Linked DNA regions of Homo sapiens. The protein of the gene in region 3 interacts with the protein of the main gene of each other region in a biochemical or structural test. Each region holds a gene or a part of one and is shown on either strand. Other genes may lie near its edges.

Region 1 (3,500 bases), on a different chromosome or scaffold from region 3:
CAAAGGGACAATCAGGTTTCTGAGGCAAGATGGATCCAAGAGTGAGATTAGAAGCCAAAAGCATGCCATGAAATCCCATACTTTTGCTCATGGTGGGCTACAGATTTAGCTTTAGGGAGCTTCAGTGCTCTGGCAACTTGGATAAAGAAAAATTCTGTTAATGACATCATTCACAGTGTCCATGAGGTAAGCACAAATCAATTCCCCAGGAAAAGCACAAACATCCATGACACTGAGAGCAGAGAGAAATCATTCTGGTTAAATCCCCAGATTAGATTGTTTCTTGTAATTCTTTTCTATTCAGTATGAACCGGTGGTTTAATGATAGAATTCATGTCATCAAAAGCAATTTTATGGGGTTGGCAGGGGAGAGGAGCTAATGAAAGAAATGTTAAGTGTAAAATCAGAGGGAGTATATACAGAAAGATAGATACATAGGACATTCCATTTTCATTTAATTGCATAAGCTGAGTACTAGATTCACTAGGAAGTTTTAATAAATATTCTTGTTTCATGTTTCATTTTGGAATAACAGAATCACAGAAATTTGACACTCTTAGGGACTTCAGTAATCAAGTTTCCCACTCTTTTTTTCCCTAGATGAAGAAACCAAGGCTCAGAGAGGTTAGGTAATTTCAAGTTTGCACAGTGTTTAGTAGAGCTGGAAACTAGAATACTTATTTCTCACATCCCAACCCAATGCACTTGGACATGAAAGGATGCTTAAAAGTCTAGGTTTGAACTCAAGCTTTCATAGGTCATTAAAACAATGTTACTTGTAAAAATGCTTGCTTTTAGGCATTCAGCTATGTGCAAACAGCTAAATGCAGAATAAAGTTGTTTTTCCTGTGAAGAGGTCATTGTTCTATTATTCTATTTTACTTGTTGATGCTCCAAAGATTATTTTTTCTAACTGCCTATTGTTCTATTACCAGCATTTATTAAAAGGGCTTTGTTATATATAAAAACTGCCTTTGTTTTGGTGCCAGTGAAAACATTTGTGTAGATCTAAGAACATTTGCTTTTCACAAGGTTTGAGAAAAGTGGAGTATTCTTTTTTGAATGGCCCATTACTTTATGAGAGAATTATTTCCATCTTGATTTTTCTCTTTGAGAACTCAAAGTGATATGTTTGCTGTAATAAATTGGAGCAAGAAGTCAGAAGAAAAGATTTTATCCTTTTTAGTAAAACAGAATCACTTTAGAGTTTAAATGCAGAATTAAGCAAAGAGTAGGAAATATCAAATTATCTCAGATCCAGTGTCCTTTTAATTTAGAACATTTATTGTCTAAGTGCACATTTGGAAGCGGATTCAGGCAACGTGCTCTTACATGATTTGAATGGAGGCAGAATTCTAACATTTTAAAGATGGCATTAAGGTGGTCTTTATTTCCTCCAAATTGCTGCCTGCCCTGAATTTGTTTTTCTGCTAGCATTTCTAATCTCCAAAGCTATAGGTTAAAAAAGGGTGGTGGGTAGAGGGCGGGGAGCTTTGAATGGGTTGGAGAGGTAATCTGCTACTTTTAGCTCTCTCTTTTCAGTTTCAAAATCTGTGTCTCTGTTTCCAGTGGAGATGCTACGTGTATCCCTAAGGATGCCAAAGGAATTTTCCAGTCAATAAATGTTGTCTCTGTTGTATACAGGGATAAACCAGACTATGAAGAAGAGATGTGTAGGATTCAGAACAGAACTGGACATTCTGATACTTGATTGGGTGCCAGTTTCTGTTTTTATTACTCACCACACTCTGATCCTCTGCCTATCCAAAAGGAGCATCTTGAGGGTCCATTGCGGTGGAATAGAAGCACCTATATCCACATGAATTGAGTACTAAAAATCCTGTGTTTGGGGCTTATGAAGTATTTTTAAAATCAGTCCTGATTTTAGTGTTGCAGAAGGAAAATTACACACACATGGATTGGTCTAAAAAGCAAAGTTTTGGGTCTGTCCATGTTCCTTATGTCACTCCAATTGCCTCCATTTTGAATGGTTGAAATGGATGATCTCCTTGCTCAGCTATTTTACATCATATGGTATATGTAAGACTGTGCCTTAACAAAAAAGATTTAGCTACTTGTATGACTTCATCTAAAATATTATTTAAGGCAACATGATAAATATTTATGATAATGTTAATTGAAAAAGAAAGCAGATGTTGTATAACGATTACAACAGAATAACTGTATGAAATTAGGTGGAGAGCGAAGGAAAATGAAAACTATTTTGTGCTTGATTTGAGTGATTATAGAAGTTTTTCTCTTAAAAATAGAACTTTTATTGTTTTTAAGAATAAAAAAAGAATTCCAATATATATAACCATTTGAATTAGATAATTCTGAATAATTCAGGTTATCAGAATTTTCCTGTCTCTTTCACTCCTGCATCTCCATTCCCTAGTGTAGGGTCTGGCACACAGAAGTTTTGCCAATGTTTGTTATATGAATTAATTCAAGTAAAATAATTATGGATCATTTGTGAATTTGGAGTGACTGCCTCAGTGGTTGATCTGATTTTCATAAAGGCCTGTCTGGCATTTGTCTTGTAACAGGCAAACTGTAACTAATCATTCTGTTCTCTTTGTATTATTTATAGGGATATTTTGCACCATTTCCCTCTGTACTTATGCCGCCAGTATCTCGTATGATTTGAACCGGCTCCCAAAGCTAATTTATAGCCTGCCTGCTGATGTGGAACATGGTTACAGCTGGTCCATCTTTTGCGCCTGGTGCAGTTTAGGCTTTATTGTGGCAGCTGGAGGTCTCTGCATCGCTTATCCGTTTATTAGCCGGACCAAGATTGCACAGCTAAAGTCTGGCAGAGACTCCACGGTATGACTGTCCTCACTGGGCCTGTCCACAGTGCGAGCGACTCCTGAGGGGAACAGCGCGGAGTTCAGGAGTCCAAGCACAAAGCGGTCTTTTACATTCCAACCTGTTGCCTGCCAGCCCTTTCTGGATTACTGATAGAAAATCATGCAAAACCTCCCAACCTTTCTAAGGACAAGACTACTGTGGATTCAAGTGCTTTAATGACTATTTATGCGTTGACTGTGAGAATAGGGAGCAGTGCCATGGGACATTTCTAGGTGTAGAGAAAGAAGAAACTGCAATGGAAAAATTTGTATGATTTCCATTTATTTCAGAAAGTTTGTATGTAACAATTACCCGAGAGTCATTTCTACTTGCAAAAGGATTCGTAACAAAGCGAGTATAATTTTCTTGTCATTGTATCATGCTTGTTAAATTTTAATGCAGCATCTTCAGAACTTGTCCTGATGGTGTCTTATTGTGTCAGCACCAAATATTTGTGCATTATTTGTGGACGTTCCTTGTCACAGGAAGATTCTTCTTCTGTTGCCTTATTGTTTTTTTTTTTTTAAGTCTCTTCTCTGTCTTTGTACTGGAATCGAAATCATAAGATAAACAGATCAAACGTGCTTAAGAGCTAACTCGTGACACTATGCAGTATTGTTTGAAGACCTGTTGTTCAACCTCTGTCT
Region 2 (3,500 bases), on a different chromosome or scaffold from region 3:
ATAGGGTGACTGGCAGGGAGCAGGCAGATCACCCAGACCAAGGAGTGGGTGCGAACACACTCCCCGACTGAGCCAGGCTGGTTCCATGATTGTCTGCTTTTCTAGGATGGCTGCATTTCACAATAAACTAAAGCACTCTCTGGACTTCCCCTGATGCCTCCAGTTGACAAGAGGGGTAAGGAGTGGGCACACAGGCTGGGAGCCCTTACCTGGCACAAAGATGTAGAGCCGTTTCCGCTCATCGGTCTCCAGTCCACGGGAGTCATTGTGGGTGCAAAAGTATTCTCCCGTGTCTAGCCCAGTGAGGTTGGTCAGTGTGAGCACGCTGGAGAAGGTGCCATCCTGGGCCTTGGCCATTTCCTGTGGGGGCTCCTGGGACATCCGTTCCCACACCACCGGAGCTGAACCCGAGCAGGTCAGAACGAAGGTGCTGGAGACATTGAGGACAAGCTCTGGCCCCGGGGGTGTGACGACCAGGCCCTGAGAGATCTGTGGTTCCAGAAGTAACAGGAGAGACAGCAACAGCAGCTCGCCTTTGGGAGAGGAGGTATCAGACATCAGGAAACAGGGGCTTCAGCACCTCTCCCAAGGCTGAGCCTGCGAGGAGGCCACGTATGCACAGCCCTCAGGTCCTTGAGGAGCACAGCTCCTTTATCCGACAGACTGGGGCTCTCCAGCCATGGCTCTGAGGACCGCTCGCCCAGCTCCAAGGCCCCAGGGATTCCTCTGGACTGCCTCTGTCAGTCCCGTTAGACCCCAGCCTCTGAGTCCTTCAGCAGTGCCATGTGTAGGCAGTAGGCACCAGAAGGGGCCAGGAAATCCTCGGGAAGCAATTCCCTGGCCTCCAGTTCCTGCATTGCTTCCCAGGTCACTTTCTGAGCCTCTTCCCTACAGCTCTCTGCCCCCTCCCCCGACTGCCCAGGTTCTGCCCAAGGCCCAGAGGTGGCTCTGGGTGGGAGAGAGATGGGAGGGAGGGGCTTAGGTAGCTCAGAGGGGGGCCAGAAAAGATGCTGAGGCCCTTTTGGGCTGGAGGGAACTGGGGTTGGGGGTGTGTGTGTGTCAAGTGATTGGTCCCCCTCCACGACATCCCCTGGAGAAGGATTTTTCAGGCCACGCCCTCCATGCCCCCTGGTGATACAGATCAGGAGGGGAGGTGGGCGGTCAGGCAGCCAGTCCATCTTATGGCCAGCTGCCGGGCAGGCTGCTGGCTGGTCATTAATTGCTGGGTCAGTCGCTCAGCCCCTGCAGAGCTGAAGACATGTTAACGGGCAGGAGTGAGGGGTGGGGTGTGCTGAGAAGCCCAGCAGGGACCTGGAAGCTCCCAGCCAATGAGGGGTCCAAGCCGAGTGCCACAGATCCACCAGACCGAGGATAGGAGGCCAGGGGTGTGGGCCAGAAGGTGGGATGGGGTCTGGAGGGCCAATCAAAGGATTTGAGCTGATGGTTCTGGACAAGCAGGGGCCCACTGACGCTTTCTGAGCTGAAGGGCTGGCAGCTGGAGGCCTCCACAGAGCCCACTGGAAATCCTGAAAACTAAAGCTGAAGGGCAGGGCAGTGTGCCTGGTGCTTCACGCCCTGCCACCAGCACACATCACCCCTGCCAGCTCCAGGGTTCCACTCCGCAGCCCCCCGGGTCCCCTACCTTATCTCCCATCTACCCACCTTTGAGGGCCAGAGCTGGCATCGCACCCGGAAGCCGCATGGTGTCCTGCAGAGTTAAACAGGAGTCAGGGCCCAGGGCAGGTGGAGGCAGCGACAGGGGCTATCTCACCACCTGGCTCCTGCAGAATGAGCCCCAGCTTGGGCCACCCAGCCTTCATGTCCGAGGGGCTGAAGTCAAAAGCCACCACGTCCCAAGCCTGAAAGGGCACTCATGACCACAGGCTGTCTCCTCTCCATCCCGGACTTAGCCTTGGGGTCCTGGCCTTTGCTTTGGCTCTGCTTGTGACTCTCACGTGGCCTCGGCTGCGTCCCCAGACTCTCTCTGTGCCTTAGTTTCCCTGTCTGTACAGTGAGGGAGGGGAAGTTGGGCTGGATGGTATCCAGTAGCCTACCAGCTCTGACAGCCTGTCCTCCGGGTGACAGTTCCAATACCAGGCTCTTATCTGCCAGGACAAATATTTGGGAAAGTGTGATGAAAGGGATGGGAGGAGGAGGGGGGAGGCCAGAACCCAGAGAACTCCCGCAGCTCCACAAGCACAACAGGAAATGGAGGAGGCTGTGGGCTGTGGGAAGGGAAGCCGGGGAGCCGGGGCTGTGGAATGTGGGAGGTGGGCCTGGACACCTTTACTCAGCCCAGAGCATACAGGGAGGCCCAGGGGACAGCGGCTAGGGGCTGGGCCCAGGAGAGGTCCCATCGAGCAGCCAGGCCTCACAGGTCCTTGGAGACCAGTGAAGCCAGGCTCCCCCCACCCCCACCCCCAGGGTGCAGATGGGGAAACTGAGGCTCTGAGAAGGTGAGAAGTTTACCCAAGATTCCACAGCAGAGCCTGTCTGAGAGGGAGACAGAGAGAAAGAGACCTGGAATGATAGAAGTAGAAAGAGACAAAGACACAGAGACAGAGAGGAGGTGCCCAGAGAGACAGCACCAGAGGCACTAAGAGACAGAAGCAAGGACAAAGACAGAGACAGAAGCAAGGACAAAGACAGAGACAGAAGCAAGGACAAAGACAGAGACAGAAGCAAGGACAAAGACAGAGACAGACTGAATGGGGTGGCCCTTGCTCTCCTCTATCTTGGAAGACACACCTCAGGTCCCAAGAGACCACCAGGAGCCAAGTATGCCAAGAGTCTGCCTGCAGCATTGGCAGGAAGGACGCCAGAGGACAGGGGTCGCAGAGCATGAGCTTTGGGAGGTGACGGCATGATGAGGCAACAAGGAGCCTCCTCTGGCTGTGGGGCTGCCCAGCCTGGCCTGCCTCTGAAGGCCATGCCCAGCTTGCCCCTACCTCCCCATCTCACCCCTTTTAGTTTTCAGTTTAGGTCTGCAGACCGGGTTCAGGCCCCAGCATGCCACCTCTTGTGCCATCGCTCTCCCTGTGGCCTAAGTCCCCAGCTCTGGAAGTGGATGATGGTGAGTACCTCACCTACCAGGGCTGCATTCACATGTCAGGGGTGGGACATAGGCAAGGCTCCTCCCGCCTATGGACCCCCAATCTTAGCTCTTCCCAACACCCCAAGAAACAGTCTGAGCAAATCAGCTCTTCTCCTCCCTCCTCCCTTTCAGACTGCCTGCCTGAAGGTCTCCTCGTTTCTTCCTCTCCCCTCTCTGAACTGCTCCTGACTCAAAGCCCAGCCCTTCTGACGCCCCCTCCAGCCTCTGCTCCCCACCATTCCTCTGCCCCAGCCCCTCCAGCTGGATGCCAGGCCTCCTTGGTCAGGAGGGAGCAGCGCCAAGGCGGAGCCAGCAGCCCCCACAGAGGCCCATCTGCCCCTCCGTCGGTGCCCCTCTGGCTGCCCCCTTCCTGCTAGAGATCTCAGCCAAAGAAAATCATTAGCAG
Region 3 (3,336 bases):
ATTTTTCTGTATCCTTAATATCTTCTGGAATCCCACAGTTTGACACTGGGAAATTGATTTTTCCCCTCACATAGCTGTGAGCATCTTTAAAAATCTATCTTTTAATACATTGTTCACTTTTGGAAAAATCCCGATTAAAAGCAGGCAAGATGGTAACCAAATATTTAAGAATATGCAAAAACAGCACTTTCACTTCCTCTCAGCAGTGCCAATACTTCTCAGGGCATACCCACCCTAATTGCATTTTAGCTCTGGAATCAGAGACAAAATTGATAAAAATAGACATGAGTGATTCTATTCCTTATGAAATAAGACAAATTATGCTTTGGGAGAAAATCATTTGCCATAAAGTATAAAATGTTTTAATATTTATATCTTATAATAAAACCATGACATGTTTATAAACACTCTATCAGGCATTTTTACAATGGGGCCACCCACCGCTGACAACTAGAAACGCAATAAATATGCACAGACACACTGAGTATGAAATATACATCTTGATTTTATAATCGTGTGTGCTTTATTTTTTACACAAATGGAATGGAAGTGTTGAATATTTACACTTAACAGGAGTGTAAGCTGTGCAGTGTCTCTGTAAACTCCAGCCTAGGCAAGGAGTATTCCCACCTCCCTCCCATCCTGTGCTACAGCTCGGTGGAGAAACATCCTGTCAGAGAGAAGCACAAAACTGTCATATTGAAAGGATCTAACGGGTACAGCCTGGTGCACTCAGAAGTTAAGAAACACTTAGGAAACACAAACTCAAAAAGGAGAGAAGAAAAGTCTGCCATCCCATTGGGAGTCAACCTTGCCACTTGGTTGTCTGTCCTCATGAGTTGCTAGGGAGATACTATACTCTTTAGATGATCTTTGTCTAAATTGTCCGCCTGTCTTAGCTTTGTCCTCAGCTGTTACAAGAAACTGCACAGCTGTACAAGAAATGATTTCCAAAGCACAGGTTTCAGTGAGGAAGGATATTTACAGACTTGAGTGTGTGTGTGTGTTTCCAACCACAGTCATTCATACTCAATGTAACGTGTGTACATGGTATACATACCATATATACCATACATACACAGAAGTAAAATGTATATCACAGAATTCTGTAGGGAGTCCCCTGGCAAGTCAGCTGTCACAGGAGGTACTCCACATGCTTCAAGGGAATTGATCTTTTTCCCTCTAGGAGTAACAAATTAATGTGATCAACTTAGGAATTAGCCTGAGTCCTTGGCTTAAATATATTTGTAGGAATTTAGGCAGGACCAAGACAGGAAAGAAGAGATTTCATTTCACCAGCAAGTCCATTCAGTCTCACCAGAGCAATCACCAGCTGAAAAGCAGAGGGGGCTTCACATAAAAATGGGAAAAAGAAAGCTTATGAATGGGAAAAAAATGTCTCTCTCCAAACCAAGGTGATGGCATGGCTTCAATGAGGAGGAAGAGGTTTGCTATCAGAATAATTGGGGCCAGAGTCTGCCTTTATTGAAAGAAAATGTCCTCAGAGCCATGCGGTAGTGCTGGGAGTGGGCTCGCTTAGGAGCAGTGTTCAGGCAGAGGCACTCAGGCGCCGGCAGGGCCCACAGCACATGCATCATCGCTGCCAGGGCAACGGTGCAGGCTGGCTCCGGGAGGCGGGCTGGAGCAGGCTCCAGGTCAGGGCCTCACGCTCAGCTTTACTTTCTGGGCTGAGTAGGTGAAACGGCGACCTAAAGTATTTGTGTCATTAGTCCAGTGCATGGACTTGCTGTCTGAATCAGCCATGAGCCCTTTAGAGGACAGAAAAATCAATACAGGGATGTACGGGAGAAGATGATCAGAGATTTGAGGAGAGGAGAAAGGACAGAAGAGGAATAAGAAGGGCAGAGAAACAGAGACTAAAGGAGAGGTGGACAAAAAGAGAAAGGGAATAGAGAAGGATTATAGGAGAAAGTCAACAACTCAGAGATGGTGGGAAGGAGGAATAGGAAAAGGAGAGGAACAAAAAAAAAAAGAGATGGAATTAGTCGGAAGTAGAAGGAGGAGGAGAGTAAGGAAAAGAATGAGAAAAAAAGTAGAGTCTCGAGCCAGAGGTTGGAGAGTTCTTTCCTGGCTCGGAGTCCTGAAGGGCCGGCAGTAGGATCTAAGACAGCGCACAGAGGCACCCGAGTGCAGCTTTGTGAAGACAGGCTCTTTAAGCAGACAGAGCCAACCCAAGAATTTGGGGCTGGGAAAAAAGGCCTGCAAATAAATAGCCAAGAAATCCCGCAAAAGGCCTGCAAATAAATGGCCGACAATTCTGTGGGAGGAGAGCAAAAAACAAATGCCTCTGCACTTAGCTGACAAATGGAATTTTGATTTTGGTAAAGCTGAGACCCCCGTGGTGCTACACATTGTACCAGAGCATGAAAAATAGCACCAGTTACACGATCTGGCACTTTTCTGAAAGGGCCCAGCATGTGTGAAGGTGACATTGCACCCCCAGCAAGCCTTCAGGTTGGAGAGAGCTCTGGACAAAGTTTGCAGTGTTAGCACCAGTCTGGCCCCAGGCTCCGAGTGCATTTGCACCAGATGTAATCTGGGTAACTTTCATGCCATTTCCATACAAGTCATCAGATTTGCTGCAAAATACACCAGTTCATTGGAGCCATAGAGACATCAACATTGGGAAGTGCAAGACAACACAACAAATGGAGGTGTAAATTCTATTGGAAAAGACCCTCTCACCAATTTGCTTGGTGATTCTTCAAGCAAATATATATGTATCTATATATTTATATAAATCTACATAAAAAAATCAGTGCAAATGCCAATTCTAATCTGAAAGCATCTACACTAGGAAAATAAATAGTTATATTACTACAAAACCAAGGGTTGGTGGTTCAATTTGATTGTACTTAGCCACAGCAACACTAGTAAATGGAAAGCACATCACACGACCCGCGAAAACATCTACTCATTAATGACAGTCTTTTAAATAAATGGTTGCATGCTCAGTTGAGAAACCAAAGAAGTTATCGTGGTGGCCTAAAAATAGAGCTGGGATCAGGAATGGCATTCTGGTGTCAGAAAACTTCTGGGAGCAATATTGATGAAAGTAGGCCTTGACCTGAAACTGGCGAATTGCAGACATGGACATATCTTTAACATTTTGAGCAATCTAAGGAAGTCTCTGGAAATTTAACTTTCATGAGAGGGAGAATGCATTGCTAGCCCTTCCATTGGCAAAGGAAGCCTCAGGACTATGGGAAGATGCATAATTTTGCATTTCTGTTTTGTTTTGGTGACTGTAGCCAGGCAGACAATGATGTTTAGCGTAAGATGAACAATGCCTGTTTTTGGAAAGAGACTCTCATT
Region 4 (3,500 bases), about 37 Mb from region 3:
TGGGTACAAGGGGATGGCAACAGCCTTGGTTTGGGTGGCCACCTTCCTCTCCTCTCTAGAGGACCCCAAGAGTGACACCTGGAGGCCCCTTTCTGGGCTGGATGCTATCGCCCGCTCCATGTTCTCCATGGCTTTCTCATGAAAACTAGATAGTCGGTTTGGTGACATGAAGTCACAAGGGGAGGGTGGTGGGCAAGGAAAGGGGAGGAGGGGCTGTCTCAGAGGCTTGGGGGCTAGGCGGGGATCCTAAGCTGGCCTGAGCTCCTTGGTGAAATACCCCCAGTCTCTTCTTTCACATCCGAGTCCCTGACTCAGCCCCTGCTAGGCCTCAAAGAGATGTTTGCGCAACAAATGACCAACCCATTCCTTTAGTGCCTCCCTCCAAGCCAGACTCCCGCTGCCATCAGAATTCATCCTAAAGCACCCAATCACCTTTTACTGACTCTACTGTCAGCTGAGCAAAATGCAAAGACCTGGGGCTGGCAGGCAACAGGCCTCCCAGCCTCCTCTCTGCTCTTTCATATTTTTAATGCTGTATTTGACACTTACATAACTCACTCCACCAGACACTACTCTAAGTGTTTTTACAAATATTAAGCTACGAATCCTCCTAAGAATAGTTGGTATTCTTATCCCCATGGCCCGTATCCTCATATTGCAGATGAGGAAACTGAGAGACAAAGCGGTTAAGTCATTTGCCTGAAGTCGTCCAGCTAACATGTGGCAGTGCTGGGGTTTGAACTCAGTAGTGTGTTCCATGGCACATACCCTCGACCCCTCAGGCTCCACCCTGGATGCTTCTGGCAAACAAAACACCGCGGGTCCCTTTTCCACGTGGCACCACGTGGCATCCGGTGGTCTCCCTACCTGGAATACCACTCCCCTCTCTACTCAGTGAATTCTCCCTCATGGTTTTCCTCTCAGACCCTGGGCAATCAGCACTAATGTGCAAATCTGCATCCCCGGACAGGCTGTGAGCCCCAGGGCCTCACATTGCTTCTAATGGCATCCCCAGAGTGTAGAAGTGCTGGGTGTGGTTTGAAGAGTGAGTGGAGGGAACAGCGCATGGTCTGGACTCAGCCTCATGGATCCCGCTGACAGCACAGGCTTCAGGTGGGCACAGAGCCCCAGGAGTGGGCCAGCTCCCGAGAACTTCCTGCTGCACTGGGTGGACAAGTCTGGTCTGGGCTGAGCTCTGGTGTCTCAGAGGCAACACTGAAACCGATCCCTGATGGGAATGCCAATATATCTCCCTTAGCCTCCCAAAGGGGCCCCTTTGTTATAAACCCCTCGCGGGCCCCCACTCTTCTCTGGTGACCGTCCCATCCTTGTCTTCTCCTGTGTCTGCAGAGGGCTCCCATTCCCCATCTGCTGGGAGAAGCATTTCCCCCTCACCCCTCATTCAATATTAACACCCTGGCCGGGCGGGTGGCTCATGCCTGTAATCCCAGCACTTTGGGAGGCTGAGGCGGGCAGATCACCTGAGGTCAGGAGCTCGAGACCAGCTTGACCAACATGGAGAAACTCCATCTCTACTAAAAATACAAAATTAGCCGGGTGTGGTGGCCCATGCCTGTAATCCCAGCTACTTGGGAGGCTGAGGCAGGTGAATCGCTTGAACCTCAGAGGCAGGGGTTGCGGTGAGCCGAGACCGCGCCATTGCGCTCCAACCTGGGCAACAAGAGCAAAACTCCATCTCAAAAAAAGAAAAAAAAAAAATTTAACACCTCCCCCCTCAACTTTCTGACCATGTTGCTCCCTCCCCCATCAGCCCCCAGGGCCCCACCCCACTCTCCAGGCTTCCACACTACTCACACAGGGGACAAAGGCCTTCACAGTAGGTTTAGCTTCAAAGGCCCAGAGGATCTGCCTCTGACCAGCTACATGACCTCAAGCTAAGCCTTTTAACCTGCCTCAGCCTCAGTTTCCTGATCTGATAAATAGGGCTAATGCCCACCCTCGTCTCTCTCAAGGGAGTGTTGCAGGCTTGAAGGAGAAAGTGTTTGTTCCTGGGAAACAATTCCCCAGTTTACTGAAAGTTTTAAGAAAGAAAATAGCCGGGCGCGGTGGCTCATGCCTGTAATCCCAGCACTTTGGGAGGCTGAGGCGGGCGGATCACGAGGTCGGGAGATCGAGACCATCCTGGCTAACATGGCGAAACCCCGTCTCTACTAAAAATACAAAAAATTAGCCGGGCGTGGTGGCGGGCGCCTGTAGTCCCAGCTACTTGGGAGGCTGAGGCAGGAGAATGGCCTGAACCCGGGAGGCAGAGCTGGCAGTGAGCCGAGATCGCACCACTGCACTCTAGCCTGGGCGAGAGTGAGACTCTGTCTCAAAAAAATAAAATAAAATAAAAAAATAAACACAGAGGCCTAAAAATTAGGACAACTACTTCGGAGCACAATTTGGCAACATCTGTCTAAGCTGAAAATACACAGACCCTGTGAGCAAGCACTGGTGGAGAGAACACAGAGGGATCGCTTGCAATAGCGAAAAACTGCACACCACCCAAGTGTCCGTCAACAGAGCCTGGGCAAATAAGCTGCTGTTACACAATGGAATCGGACGTGGAGGTTAAAATGGATCCGTGAGAATTCATGTTTAGGATGGTTAAATCTCCAAAACAATATTGAGGGAAAAACCTAAATGCAGAATATGCCTGGTATACCATTTAAACCAGAGTAAAATCATACGAAACAGCACTGTATGTTGCTAGGCATGAATACCTATGTAGGACAATTTTAAAAACAGGCACAAGAACATCACACACACCAAAATCAGAATTGTGGTTTCCTCCAGGGAGTAAGACACAGGGGCCTCCATCTCTATCTAAAGCAAATATGGCCTAATGCTAAGCTCCAACCAAGCTAGGCAGTAGGTGTCACCTTATTCTGCACACTTTTCTAACGCCAAGATATTTAATGTGTTTAGAAAGATTTCAAAATCATTTCTTAAAAAGACTCCAGAGGCTGGGCACAGTGGCTCAGGCCTGTAATCTCAGCAACTCAGGAGGCCAAGGTGGGAGGATCACTTAAGGCCAGGAGTTCGAGACCAACCTGGGCAACATAGCAGGACCTCGTCTCTACAAAAGAAAGAAAGAAAGAAAAAATGAGCCCGGTATGGGGGCCCCCACCTATAGTCCTAGCTACTCGGGAGGCTGAGGTGGAAGGATTGCTTGAGCCTAGGGGTTTGAAATTACAGTGAGCTATGATTGTGCCACTGCACTCCAGCCTGGGTGACAGAGGGAGATCCTGTGTCCTACAAAAGACCCCTTGAGGGAGACCAGCCCCCTAGAGCTCCCTGGGTCTACCAGGGATGGTTTTGGCAGCCTGTCCCTCACCCTTTCAGGGCCCTCAGGATGGAAGGAAGGTCTCCCCCAAGGGGATGCCTTCCAGAGGTGGGTGGGTGGTGGCAGGCTGTGTCAGTGGGGTGTCCGTGTGGGTTGGGGAGCAAGAACCAGCTTGCCCCCTTTCACAACCGCCCCCGCCTCTCTCTGTAAA
Region 5 (2,322 bases), on a different chromosome or scaffold from region 3:
CAAATCCTGTTAGGTAGGGCTCTTCTGGCTGTGTGGGACAGGATTCAAACTCAACGTTTTTTCAGCCAAAAGGGGAATTGATTGGGAAGATGTGGGCGTGTCACAGAACAGCCTGGTATTGGGAAAGGCAGGAGTGAGTGGGGCTTCCTCTCCCCACCTCTTTTCTTTCTTTCTTTTTTGAGATGGAGTCTTGCTCTGTTGCCCAGGCTGGAGTGCAGTGGCACAATCTTGGCTCACTGCAGCTTTCGCCTCCTGAGTTCAAGCAATTCTCCTGCCTCAGCCTCCCGAGTAGCTGGGATTACAGGTGCCCACCACCACAGCCGGCTAATTTTTGTATTTTTTAAAAATAGAGACAGGGTTTCACCATGTTGGCCAGGCTGGTCTCGAACTCCTGACCTTGTGACCCACCCACCTCAGCCTCCCAAAGTGTTGGGATTACAGGCATGAGCCGCCACGCCCGGCTACCCACCTCTTTTCTTTTCTTTTTTTTTTTTTTTTTTGTGATGGAGTCTTGCTCTGTCATCCAGGATGGTGTGCAGTGGCACGATCTTGGCTGACTGCAACCTCCACCTCCCGAGTTCAAGCGATTCTCCTGCCTCAGCCTCCCGAGTAGCTGGGATTACAGGTGCCCACCACCACAGCCAGCTAATTTTTGTATTTTTAATAGACACGGGGTTTTACCATATTGGCCAGGCTAGTCTCGAACTCCTGACTTCAGGTATCTACCCACCTCGGCCTCCCAAAGTGCTGGGATTACAAGCGTGAGCCACCGTGCCTGACCTCCACCTCTTCCCTTGTGGGTTCTTTTCTCCCTCTGCAGACCTCACAGAGTCACCTGGGCTTGAGGCCTCATAGAGGAGCCCTCAGTGCTGACCACACACTACAGTCCCCTGAGGAGCTACATGACTTCTGATGCCAGGTCCACCCAGACCAATGAAATAAGAGTGTCTGGGGTTGGAGCCTAGGCATTGTGCCCCCAGGTGATTCGAATGTGCATGCAGGGTTGGGAACCATTGCACTATAGCTTCAGGCACCCAGAGGAGAAACTCCTGCAGTTCTCATTCATTAGAGGGGCAGGACTCTGGGGAACCTATTTAGGGTCAGGTGGCCACATCCTCTGACCAGAGGCTGGACAAGTCCCTGTTGTGCCCCGGTGGATGTGCAGCACCGGCCAGGCCAGGCGCCGAGGGGTCAGTCCCCCAGCAGCTCCCTGCCATTTGTGTCATTCCTCCCCTCCCTGCCCTTGACTGCAGTGTACATGGCAGTCATCTCATCTGACTTGGTTTCCGTCACTTTCCCTCTCAGAGTCAAGCTCGAAGGAGAAGCTGAGCTGCGTTCTTGAGATCTGGGGACGTGGTGGGAGATGTGGTCACAAGGCAGGTGGTGGAGGAGGCCAGAATGGAGCTGGCCAAGGAAGGTGCGTGGCAGGGAAGGGGAGGTTCTGTGATGGATGCTTTCCCCAGAAGCCTGATACGCAGTGGCCAGGGAGACTGAGTCCCGGGAGAGGGTTTGGGGTGGGAGAGGTCTGAGCATGAGGGGCAGGGCACACTCTGGTTCAGGGAGATGTAGGACAAAGGACTCTGGCCTTGGGACTGATCTGGGCTGGTTTCCTTACATTCCTCTCAGGCCCTTCCCCCTGTATGCTAAGGGGGGATGGTACCTGGACTTCAAGACCAAAAGCCCTTCTCTGACCGCACTGCTGAGTGCAGCAGGCAGCTCCACCCACAGTCTCTGGGCAGCCCCAGGCTGTCCCCTCCCCACTCTGATTCTAGGACAAAGACCTTGGACCTCAGCTGGATGCTGGGGATCAGGAGAGGAGGAATGGTAGGTGTGGAAACAAGGGGCAGGATTCGGGGTGAGCAGAGCTGGGGGCTGCAGACCTTGCTCAGGACAGTCCTAATGCCTGCAAGCTCCTAACGCCCTCCCCACATTCCCTTTTCTACATGGGGAGCTCCTACACTGTGTCCCCTCACCTATCGCTGATCCCCAGCATCCAGCTGGAGGGCCTTCCAGGAACTGTCCCTTCCCTTAGGAGGTCTCTGGAGCACAGTAACAGGGGCAGGGTTTACTACCTTGGGGCCTCTTTCCACACCAGGGGCTCCCTGACCCTGGGGACTGCTCCTAGAGCTGGGCCAAGCCTCAGGGGCAGCCTCCAGGAGTGAGTGGGATCTCCTATCAAGGAGGACTTTGTGCCAAGGCCAAGGCCAGGCTTGGGAGGGGGGTCCCTAGACAGAGGGTAGGACCTCTGAATTATTTCTTGCTTAGCCCTGGATGTGCTATGTAACCCACCCTGGACCTCTGTCTCCTCATCTTTCTGCCCAA
Region 6 (3,500 bases), on a different chromosome or scaffold from region 3:
CTCGTCTCTGCCCTCGTGGGACTCCCCATTTATTAGGAAGGGCAGGCCTGTGTGTAAATAGTCCCTGCAGTGGGACAAGTGCTACAATGAAGGCTGAAGTGGAGGCAGCAGTCATTCTGCCTGGCAAGGTCAGGGGAGGGGTCCCAGAGTGGGGCAGGGCAAGGATAGCCACCATCTCTGGGTTGCATGCTTTCCCAGACTTTGTCTCCTTCCACCCTTGCAGCAACTCTGGGAAGTCAGTGTAACTACCCCACCCCATGTTACAGATGGGGAAACTGAGTCCTCTCACAGTTGACTAGTTTGTACAAGGTTTGTATCTGGTAGAGCTGGAAGCCACACATGACCCTTCCCTTCTCCCTGGGAGGAGGTGACATTTGAACTAAGTCTTCAGAGATGAAGTGTTTGCCAGGCAGACAGCATGAGGGTCAGAATGCTGGTCCCTGGGAATATTCTGCCTGAGTCATGAGGCGCCATTGCCAGAATACTTGGTCCCTGTGCCTACACCATGAAAGTGGAGGTGGAGGGACCCACCCAGGACTCCTGCCCTACCACCATGGCCTCCATGGCTATTGGGAGCACCTAAGGGTGGGGGTGCCCCACAGAGTCTTTCTCCCAAGCGTGTAAGTTCTGACAGTGCTCCCCCAATCTCCTTTCTCTTTTCCAGAATGGACAGACCTCAGGGGAAGAAGCTGGACTTCAGCCGTCCAAGGTGAGGACCATGGCCAGCACCCTGAGCGAGGGGCTGTGGGGGATCCTGTTTGCATGGCTTTGGAGGAGGTTGAGGGCTCCAGCCTCTAGCCCCTTTGCCCAACTCAGCCGTCCTTCTCAGGGCCCACCGAATCCTTGTGGCAACCCTGGGCATAGAAATCACTTGTTCCAACCTTCCTATTTTGTAGGTGAGGCGACTGTGGCCCAGAAAGGGTCAGGAGCAGAATCCAGGTCAGGGCTCTGGTTACCTGTCACCCAGGCCAGGATGCCCCTGCAGTTTATTTACTCATGGAATTTGGGCTGGCTCTAAGGAGTGATGGGAGGGGCTCAGGCCAGCTGTCCTGCTCCTTTTGGTAGAGCTGCGCTTGCCAAGAGCCTGGAAGTGAGCATCTGGGCACGTGAGCTGGAAAGGGGGTGCTGGTGGCCGCTCAAGGCTAACCAGGCCCATTGCCTGGCATGTGGCACTCATGGCATTTCTTAGGGCTTCCACTTCCCAGTGTGAGGGTCATTCCCTCACCCCTGCTATCTCTGCTTCCCCTGGGCCCCTTCCTGTAGCCCCCTAGCCCCTGTTGCTGGTTTTGTGTTTTGCCAGAAGCACCAGGACTAGGTGACAGTGGTGTGACCTTGGGGAGGTTCCTTGTACACTCTGGGCCTTGGCTTTCTCATCTGTATATTGGAAAAGACCACATCCCCTTCACAGGGTGGCTGTGAGGTCACAGGAGATGCTGGCTATGGAGGGTCTTTGGAAGCTGCTTAGGCAGGGACAGAGCATGGTGTTAGAGCAAATCCGGGTTCCAGTCCTGGCTCCATCCCCACCATTTAACCAGAAGCTCTTCTCCCTTCTGAGTCTCAGTTTCCTGAGCTGTAAGTTGGGGAAACAGTGTCTGTCTCACAGGAGCAATGTGAAGGACGATGAGATAGTAACTGCCTGGCACATGGCAGCTTCGGTGCCAGCACCGAAAATGTCCTAGTATATTGCTCAGCTCAGCTTCCTGCCAGTGACCCCACCTTCCAGACCTAGGTTGGCTTGAACACCAGACCTGCCATAAGCTTGACCTTTGAGATGGATGCAGGATTAGTCCTGATGTTTACCTTGACTCAGCTTCCTAAGATGAGGTGACTGAGCTGGGTAGGATAGGGCAGGTGAGGGAAGTATTCTCGCACCACTTCTCTGTGGGTTGCTGTGGCAACCTTGGACCAGCAGAGGCCAGTAAATAGTGTGGACTGGGCCCCTTGGTTTAGCTCAGCCCATGTCTGCAGAATCTCCTCCCACAAAGTAGCTACCTCTTGTTGCCTAGTAACAAAATGAAGAACTGTAGGTTCCCAGTGAAGAAACACGGTGTTCAGATCTCAGGGCTGAGGTTCTGGGGGTTGCAGAGGAGCTTGCAGCATTTAGGGACCTGTGCTGAGTACAGCTTCTCACCTCAAGAACTGGAGGAGCTTACTGGGAGATGGCAGGAGCTTGCCGAGGCAGGTAACCTTTTGCTCCCAAGCCTATGACTCTTGCTCTAGAGCAGAAGATCCTGGGGTAGGAAGAGAGACAGGGCTGGAGATGGATGGGACATGGAGTCTCGAATGCCACTTAAGGAAGAGAAAGAGCTTAACCTATGCCTAGCATCATACCAGGTGCTTTGCATTTAGTTCTAACTACATCCTTGGAGGTAGATTGTTACTGTCCCCATTTTACAGATGAGAAAATTGAGGTTCAACATCACATAGCTGGTGGGCAATGAAGACAAGTCTTGTTTGGCTTCAAGGTCATTCCTCATAGTCCAGAGAACCCTGAGTGCTGAAGAGGAGGAGCACTGGCTTTCTGTGATTCCAAGTGGGACCAGTCCTGGGCACCTGCTCATCCATCTGTTGTCCCAGCCACCAGTGTCCCTAATGCCCACTTCTGGGCTTAATACACCAGGGGGCGCTCAACCTGTGGTCCGGACCTCATCACTTTGTGCAGTGGAATGAGCTGGCAATGGGCCACTTTATCCTAATCAGACATTCGGTGCACCCTGTTGTTCACAGGAGGGCCTAAAATGAAGTCAATATCCCCCACCTTCGAGAAGCTTCCAATCTTTGGGCAGAGGGTAGAGACAGGAAAGCCATGTGGTAGGCGCTATGATGGGGCAAGAGCACAGCTGTGGGCACATAGAACCTCTGCTCTGTGCTAGGCCCATGTTGGGCAGAGACGTATACCACCACCTTCCAGGTGCCCACATTTCTCTCCGTAGCATGACGAGATGAGCACGTCCCCGGGAACCCAGCTGATGGCATCTGAGTTCAGGGCTGAGTGTGGACCAGAGACATGGTCATTGCCGTGCATGGCCGAGGAAGAAGAGTTGGGGTGGGCTCTAGGGCACAGGCCATGTTCCCTGCGGAACTGGCATTTGGCTGGGACTCAAAAGGCAGGATTTGGGCAGCTGGAGAAAGAATTGGGCCTTCCAGGTGGCAAAGAGGCAGGGAAGAGAGTCAGGGATTCTGAGTTCAGAATCCTGCACCTATTTTTTATTTGCCTTGTAACCTTGGGCAAGTCATTTGCCTTGCTGAGGCTCGGGTTCTTTCCTGAAAAATGAAAGGAGAATAAAGCCTATTTCTCAGGGCTACCTGGAAAAGAGAATGTGGTACATATAAATTAAAGTATCTAACAGGGCTTGTGGCACAATGTTGCTGTTTAATGCTTGTTTATTTTATTCATTTCAGGCAGAAAGCGGGATTTGGGATTTGGGATTTGGCTTTTAGCAGCAATAGTGTGGATAGCCATCCAGGGTGAGAACTCTCTGGATCCCCTCAGCACCTAG
Region 7 (4,221 bases), on a different chromosome or scaffold from region 3:
GCCTAGACCCAGGTAGGGCAAGTGATATACCTAGGATTCCAGAACTAGAGAGTGGCAGAAAAAGGATTAGAACCCAAGTTTTTAATCTGCCAACCCAATTATCTTTCTATTACCTTCCACCCATCCCAACCAGTGTGTACAGACTAAGAAGGCTGTTTTCAAGGAGAAAGCTGTATTGTTCTGAATCATAAAAGGAAATAAAATCAAGGTTGAAAAATGAAGAGGGAATTAATGAAATATGCCAAAACAGTGTCTTGTCAAGAAAAACACAATACAGGCAATCATTGTGCTTAAAAAAATACTATGGTCCCTTTATATACCGTTGAAGCCAACCCAGTTATAACTGACTTTTACTGTTAAGAACTAGGCTATTTGGGAGGAATGGGAGAAATAATTTTATCCCTTGCATATCTAAATGCATGTCATAATGAGCCTTCATATAATAGGGGTCAACTGTACATTCAGTGGAAAGGGAATCATTAAAAGGCACCCTGCCTCTCAACACACGAAGCACTTCCTCTACAGCTTGGCCAAGGAAACCCTCATCTACCCTCTCAAATAATCCCCCAGCCAGACCACAAATTGCTGGCTGCCCCATACTTAGTAACACCCCCTGCCATGCTCTCACTGGCTCACAAAATAATCCGGGACCACAGCAGCAAGCACTCTCTGGGGTGCTTCTCAAGATGGGTCAGCTCTGGGCAGAGCTGAAAAATGACCTCTCCAAGGCAGGTTGTCTAGGCAGACTGTGGAAATTCTGTGGGCGGTGTGAGGAGAAAAAGAAAGGGAGGAACTGCCAGATCATGGAGGGCTGCATATCCCATTGTGACCTTGGTGGAAAGAGTGGGGAGAGGAGGAGCTTGATTAGAAGAAATTCCTGAAGGCCAGGATTCCCCTCACCAAAGGAGTTGAGTGTTTTTGTTAAAAAAAAAAAAAAAAAAAAAAAGCATATAACTTTCTCCAGAGAACACTGGAGGGAGACTGCCTCAGGAGGGGTTGTGACAGTGGATGACAAACGCATCTCAGGCTGGTTAAAGTACATGACAAGTATGGGGGAAAGGGTGCTGGATGAAGATCTGGGCTAGTTTGGGGAGGCTAATGATCAGAGGGGTCCCTGCCAGCCCCTCAAAATGTTGCCTCAGCATACCTCAGACTCCTCAATCTGATTGGTACACCCATGGCAACACTCCAGGGTTGCTAAGAGTGTGGGCCCCAAGGCCTGAAGGATCCCATACACTGGAAGTCAACCACAGGCTCCAATGCAAGGCGAATGCCGCACAGGTTATTGTGGGTGTGTGTTGCGGTGGACGTTTGCTGAACCCTCTGCTGAGATGTGACCAATGTTGAACCCCACCCCCCCGCAAAAAAAAAGTGATATTTGCTCCCTGCTGAAAAGACACATCTTTCTATCTCCAGCCTGAACCCACATCTACAACTTCAACTGCCATTTAAGCGGGTTGGAAGCGGGAGGGCTTTTCGGATTTGAGGATTTAAGAGAAACAACAAAAAAGTGGAATAAAGTTCGTAAAGTCCGTTCACTTGGCAATCTGGCACCTCAAGGTGAGTCGTCCCACAAGTCACTCTTCCTGGTAACAGCTCCAGCTGCCCCTACCCCTCGCCCTCACCCCTACGGGGGAGGCTCGCTTTGGGGGTTCTGGAGCACTCAGGAGAGCTCCTCTCTCCTGTCCTCAGCTGCAACTTGGCTTCCAGCAGATCACAGACTCCTAAAACAAACAAACCCTGGCGGCGGCGGCGGCGGCGGCAGTGGCGGCGGCGGCGGCGGCGGCGGCGGCAGCGGCAGCAGCAACAGCAGTAGCTCCAGCACAGCTGCGCTCCATGGCGCAAGTTTCCTCCACACTTCTCAACGTGCAGGAAATCTCGCCGGCGCTGGGGCAGGACTCTGGAGGGAGGGAGAGGCCGAGCCGAACCGGCGGCAACAACGCCCCAAGAGCTGAATGGATGTGTGCGCGTCCGGCCGTGGGAAGTGTGGCTGGCAAAAGCCACCAATGGCCTCATCTCCGTTCCCACACCAGCCCCTAGCCCTGCAACCTGCCTGGGAGGGACGGCCCGCCGGTCGATAGAGGGGACAACGCTGCCAAGAGAGCTGCCAAGCCGCGATGACTGTCCCTTCAGTCCTTCACTGTCCCGCAGGGACGCAGAGGCCTCCAAGGAGAAATCCCCAACAGCCTCCACTTCCTTCGGCCCAAACTGAGGGAAGTAGCCGCCCCGACGTGGGGCAGCAAGGGCTGCCCCAGCGCCCTCGCGAGTGTGTCTGCGCGCAAGGTTCTAGCCGGGGGCCAGTTGTGCTCCCAGCTCGTGTTCCAGCCACCCTTAGGGGATGTCTGCACCTGGACTGGTGGCAAGACCCCTCCGTGCCGCTCAGAGGGTCTTTCGCTCCCAGCCCTAAGTTTCAAAGTTGGCCTGAGGGCCCCGTCCAGCGGCAGCCTTCGCACCCGCTTGTCCATTCAAAGTTAGGCGCCGTTAGGACATCAGCCGCCAGTTCTTACCTTAGACACTGTGAGCGGCTCACAGTGTTCCAGACCCCCCTTAAGGGTGAAGCCCCAGGGTGCCCCCCCTTGCAGCTGCACAGGGACGTACTGGAAGGACCCAGGCCGGTTCTCCATCCTCGGCTGGGCTCAGGCGCCGCCGGGCTCCTTTTCCGAGGGGGCTACGTTGCCTCCGCCCCCAGCAGCTCCGCCACCATCGCCCTCCAGCTCTACGCCACCCCGCACCGCCCTGCTCCGCCTACTCTCCCGGCTGGAGACGCTCAGGCAGCGAGCGAGCGCAAGGAGGAAATGACACGGAGCTGGAGAAAGGGGGAGAGAGGGGGGAAAAGGAGAAGGGAAAAAAAGAAAAGAAAAGAAAGAAGGAGAGGCGGAGGGATAGCGCGTAATGGACAAGAAAACGGAGCAATGGGGAGGGGCAGTCACTGGGACCTCGCCTATAGGATCGCTGGGGAGTGGGAGCGAGGCGAGGCCTCACATCAATTGTTACATTGTTTCATTCAAGCAGGGCCCCTCTTTGGTCCTCCTCTTTACTGCCGGGTTCCCCGCCCCTCCAGCCAGCCCAGGCGAGGGGAGGTGAAAGTCGTTAGTGTGGACGGCCCGCGTGGCTGAGTGGGCTGAAACGCTGGTTTCCTGATTAGCGCGTTCATGTTTCTCTGACTGCCTTTTTCTTCTGAAGGTCCCGAGAACGGAGACCTGGGAGGGTTAAAAGGCTGCTAATTTGTGGACCTTGCCTAGAGGGGTGGAAAGCAAAGCCAGCAGGCCAGCGGACATAGTGAGGCTGTGTGTGTAGACTGCTCTGTGTGTACGCGCTAGGTGTGTGGGGTCATTATGAAACATTGCCCCAGAGCATAGTTTAAATAAAGAAGCACTTTGAGGATGCCCCCTGCTCGGGCTCCCCCGCACCCTGGCTCAGTGTTGGTGTCTATGGCTAGCACTGTGCTTGTGTATGTTCCAGTCATCTGGAGTTCCTGGCACGGCCTTGCACTTGCCCCACCGAGATGAGCAAGCCAGCAATCAGCAAACTTTATGACTAGCAGTATTGTCTCTAAACAAACCTACAGGAAAGAGCATCCATTGATAAGCTGGCCAATTAATAATGTTGTGCCTTTGGGAAGAATCAGCTTTTAGACTGGGTCCAGAACATCTCTGCACATCTGTTCAAGCTTGACCTTGTAGTTTCTGAGCTGGGCTTTTGTAATAGACCAAACAGCCACAATAATAGTCCTGAAAAGCGAATTTGTTACTGAATCTTGTGCTGATTTCTCTGCCTTCACTTGGACAGGTTATCTTCTCTCTTTGAGGTGTTTTCTCTGGAGCCACATGCGGGCAGTGAATTTTTAAAGGGCCTCGCACTAGCGGAGAAAGTGTTGACAACTCAGTTGTGACTCAACAGGATGTTCCCACTCTGTCTCGCCTGTTCAGTTTCTTCCCCTGTTCTTGTGCAGCTTCTTCTTCATGGCCAACAAACACACTGCGGCCCCTTCCTTCACAGCCAGCTTTCTGCGGTCAAGGTTTCCACTCTCTACTTCTACTTCCTCACCTGTCACTGCCTCTTCAACGCACAGCAGCCTGCGGTGTGCTGCAGCAGGCCACTGAAATGTCTCTCAAAGTCACCCCCCTCCATCAATCCTTTTTTCTTAGCACCCCCCTGGACTGTCTGCATATATGATGCTGCCCTGACTTTTCTTTAATAAAATGGCAATTTAGGTGTTTA

The links.
Region 1: the proteins of DLG2 (region 3) and TMEM178A interact in a test that uses a peptide from one of them, tested with the Homo sapiens proteins (one large-scale study listed by IntAct).
Region 2: the proteins of DLG2 (region 3) and PDGFRB interact in a test that uses a peptide from one of them, tested with the Homo sapiens proteins (one large-scale study listed by IntAct).
Region 4: the proteins of DLG2 (region 3) and DGKZ interact in a test that uses a peptide from one of them, tested with the Homo sapiens proteins (one large-scale study listed by IntAct).
Region 5: the proteins of DLG2 (region 3) and CLDN19 interact in a test that uses a peptide from one of them, tested with the Homo sapiens proteins (one large-scale study listed by IntAct).
Region 6: the proteins of DLG2 (region 3) and RPS6KA1 interact in a test that uses a peptide from one of them, tested with the Homo sapiens proteins (one large-scale study listed by IntAct).
Region 7: the proteins of DLG2 (region 3) and SHROOM4 interact in a test that uses a peptide from one of them, tested with the Homo sapiens proteins (one large-scale study listed by IntAct).

Annotation. Positions count from the first base shown.
Region 1 is NC_000002.12:39,714,417-39,717,916, forward strand, and holds part of TMEM178A (transmembrane protein 178A isoform 1 precursor), read left to right. Parts: exon of another isoform or gene 1-846; intron 847-2,593; coding exon 2,594-2,835; 3' UTR 2,836-3,500. UniProt on the Homo sapiens protein: Acts as a negative regulator of osteoclast differentiation in basal and inflammatory conditions by regulating TNFSF11-induced Ca (2+) fluxes, thereby controlling the induction of NFATC1.
Region 2 is NC_000005.10:150,135,346-150,138,845, forward strand, and holds part of PDGFRB (platelet-derived growth factor receptor beta isoform 1 precursor), read right to left. Parts: intron 1,709-3,500; 5' UTR 1,703-1,708; coding exon 1,663-1,702; intron 534-1,662; coding exon 210-533; intron 1-209. UniProt on the Homo sapiens protein: Tyrosine-protein kinase that acts as a cell-surface receptor for homodimeric PDGFB and PDGFD and for heterodimers formed by PDGFA and PDGFB, and plays an essential role in the regulation of embryonic development, cell proliferation, survival, differentiation, chemotaxis and migration.
Region 3 is NC_000011.10:83,454,673-83,458,008, forward strand, and holds the end of DLG2 (disks large homolog 2), read right to left. Parts: 3' UTR 501-3,336; downstream 1-500. UniProt on the Homo sapiens protein: Required for perception of chronic pain through NMDA receptor signaling. Regulates surface expression of NMDA receptors in dorsal horn neurons of the spinal cord.
Region 4 is NC_000011.10:46,353,963-46,357,462, reverse strand, and holds part of DGKZ (diacylglycerol kinase zeta), read right to left. Parts: intron 1-3,500. UniProt on the Homo sapiens protein: Diacylglycerol kinase that converts diacylglycerol/DAG into phosphatidic acid/phosphatidate/PA and regulates the respective levels of these two bioactive lipids.
Region 5 is NC_000001.11:42,732,593-42,734,914, forward strand, and holds the end of CLDN19 (claudin-19), read right to left. Parts: 3' UTR 501-2,322; downstream 1-500. UniProt on the Homo sapiens protein: Forms paracellular channels: coassembles with CLDN16 into tight junction strands with cation-selective channels through the strands, conveying epithelial permeability in a process known as paracellular tight junction permeability.
Region 6 is NC_000001.11:26,536,261-26,539,760, forward strand, and holds part of RPS6KA1 (ribosomal protein S6 kinase alpha-1), read left to right. Parts: intron 1-664; coding exon 665-709; intron 710-3,500. UniProt on the Homo sapiens protein: Serine/threonine-protein kinase that acts downstream of ERK (MAPK1/ERK2 and MAPK3/ERK1) signaling and mediates mitogenic and stress-induced activation of the transcription factors CREB1, ETV1/ER81 and NR4A1/NUR77, regulates translation through RPS6 and EIF4B phosphorylation, and mediates cellular proliferation, survival, and differentiation by modulating mTOR signaling and repressing pro-apoptotic function of BAD and DAPK1.
Region 7 is NC_000023.11:50,811,395-50,815,615, forward strand, and holds the start of SHROOM4 (protein Shroom4), read right to left. Parts: upstream 2,801-4,221; 5' UTR 2,625-2,800; coding exon 2,508-2,624; intron 1-2,507. UniProt on the Homo sapiens protein: Probable regulator of cytoskeletal architecture that plays an important role in development. May regulate cellular and cytoskeletal architecture by modulating the spatial distribution of myosin II.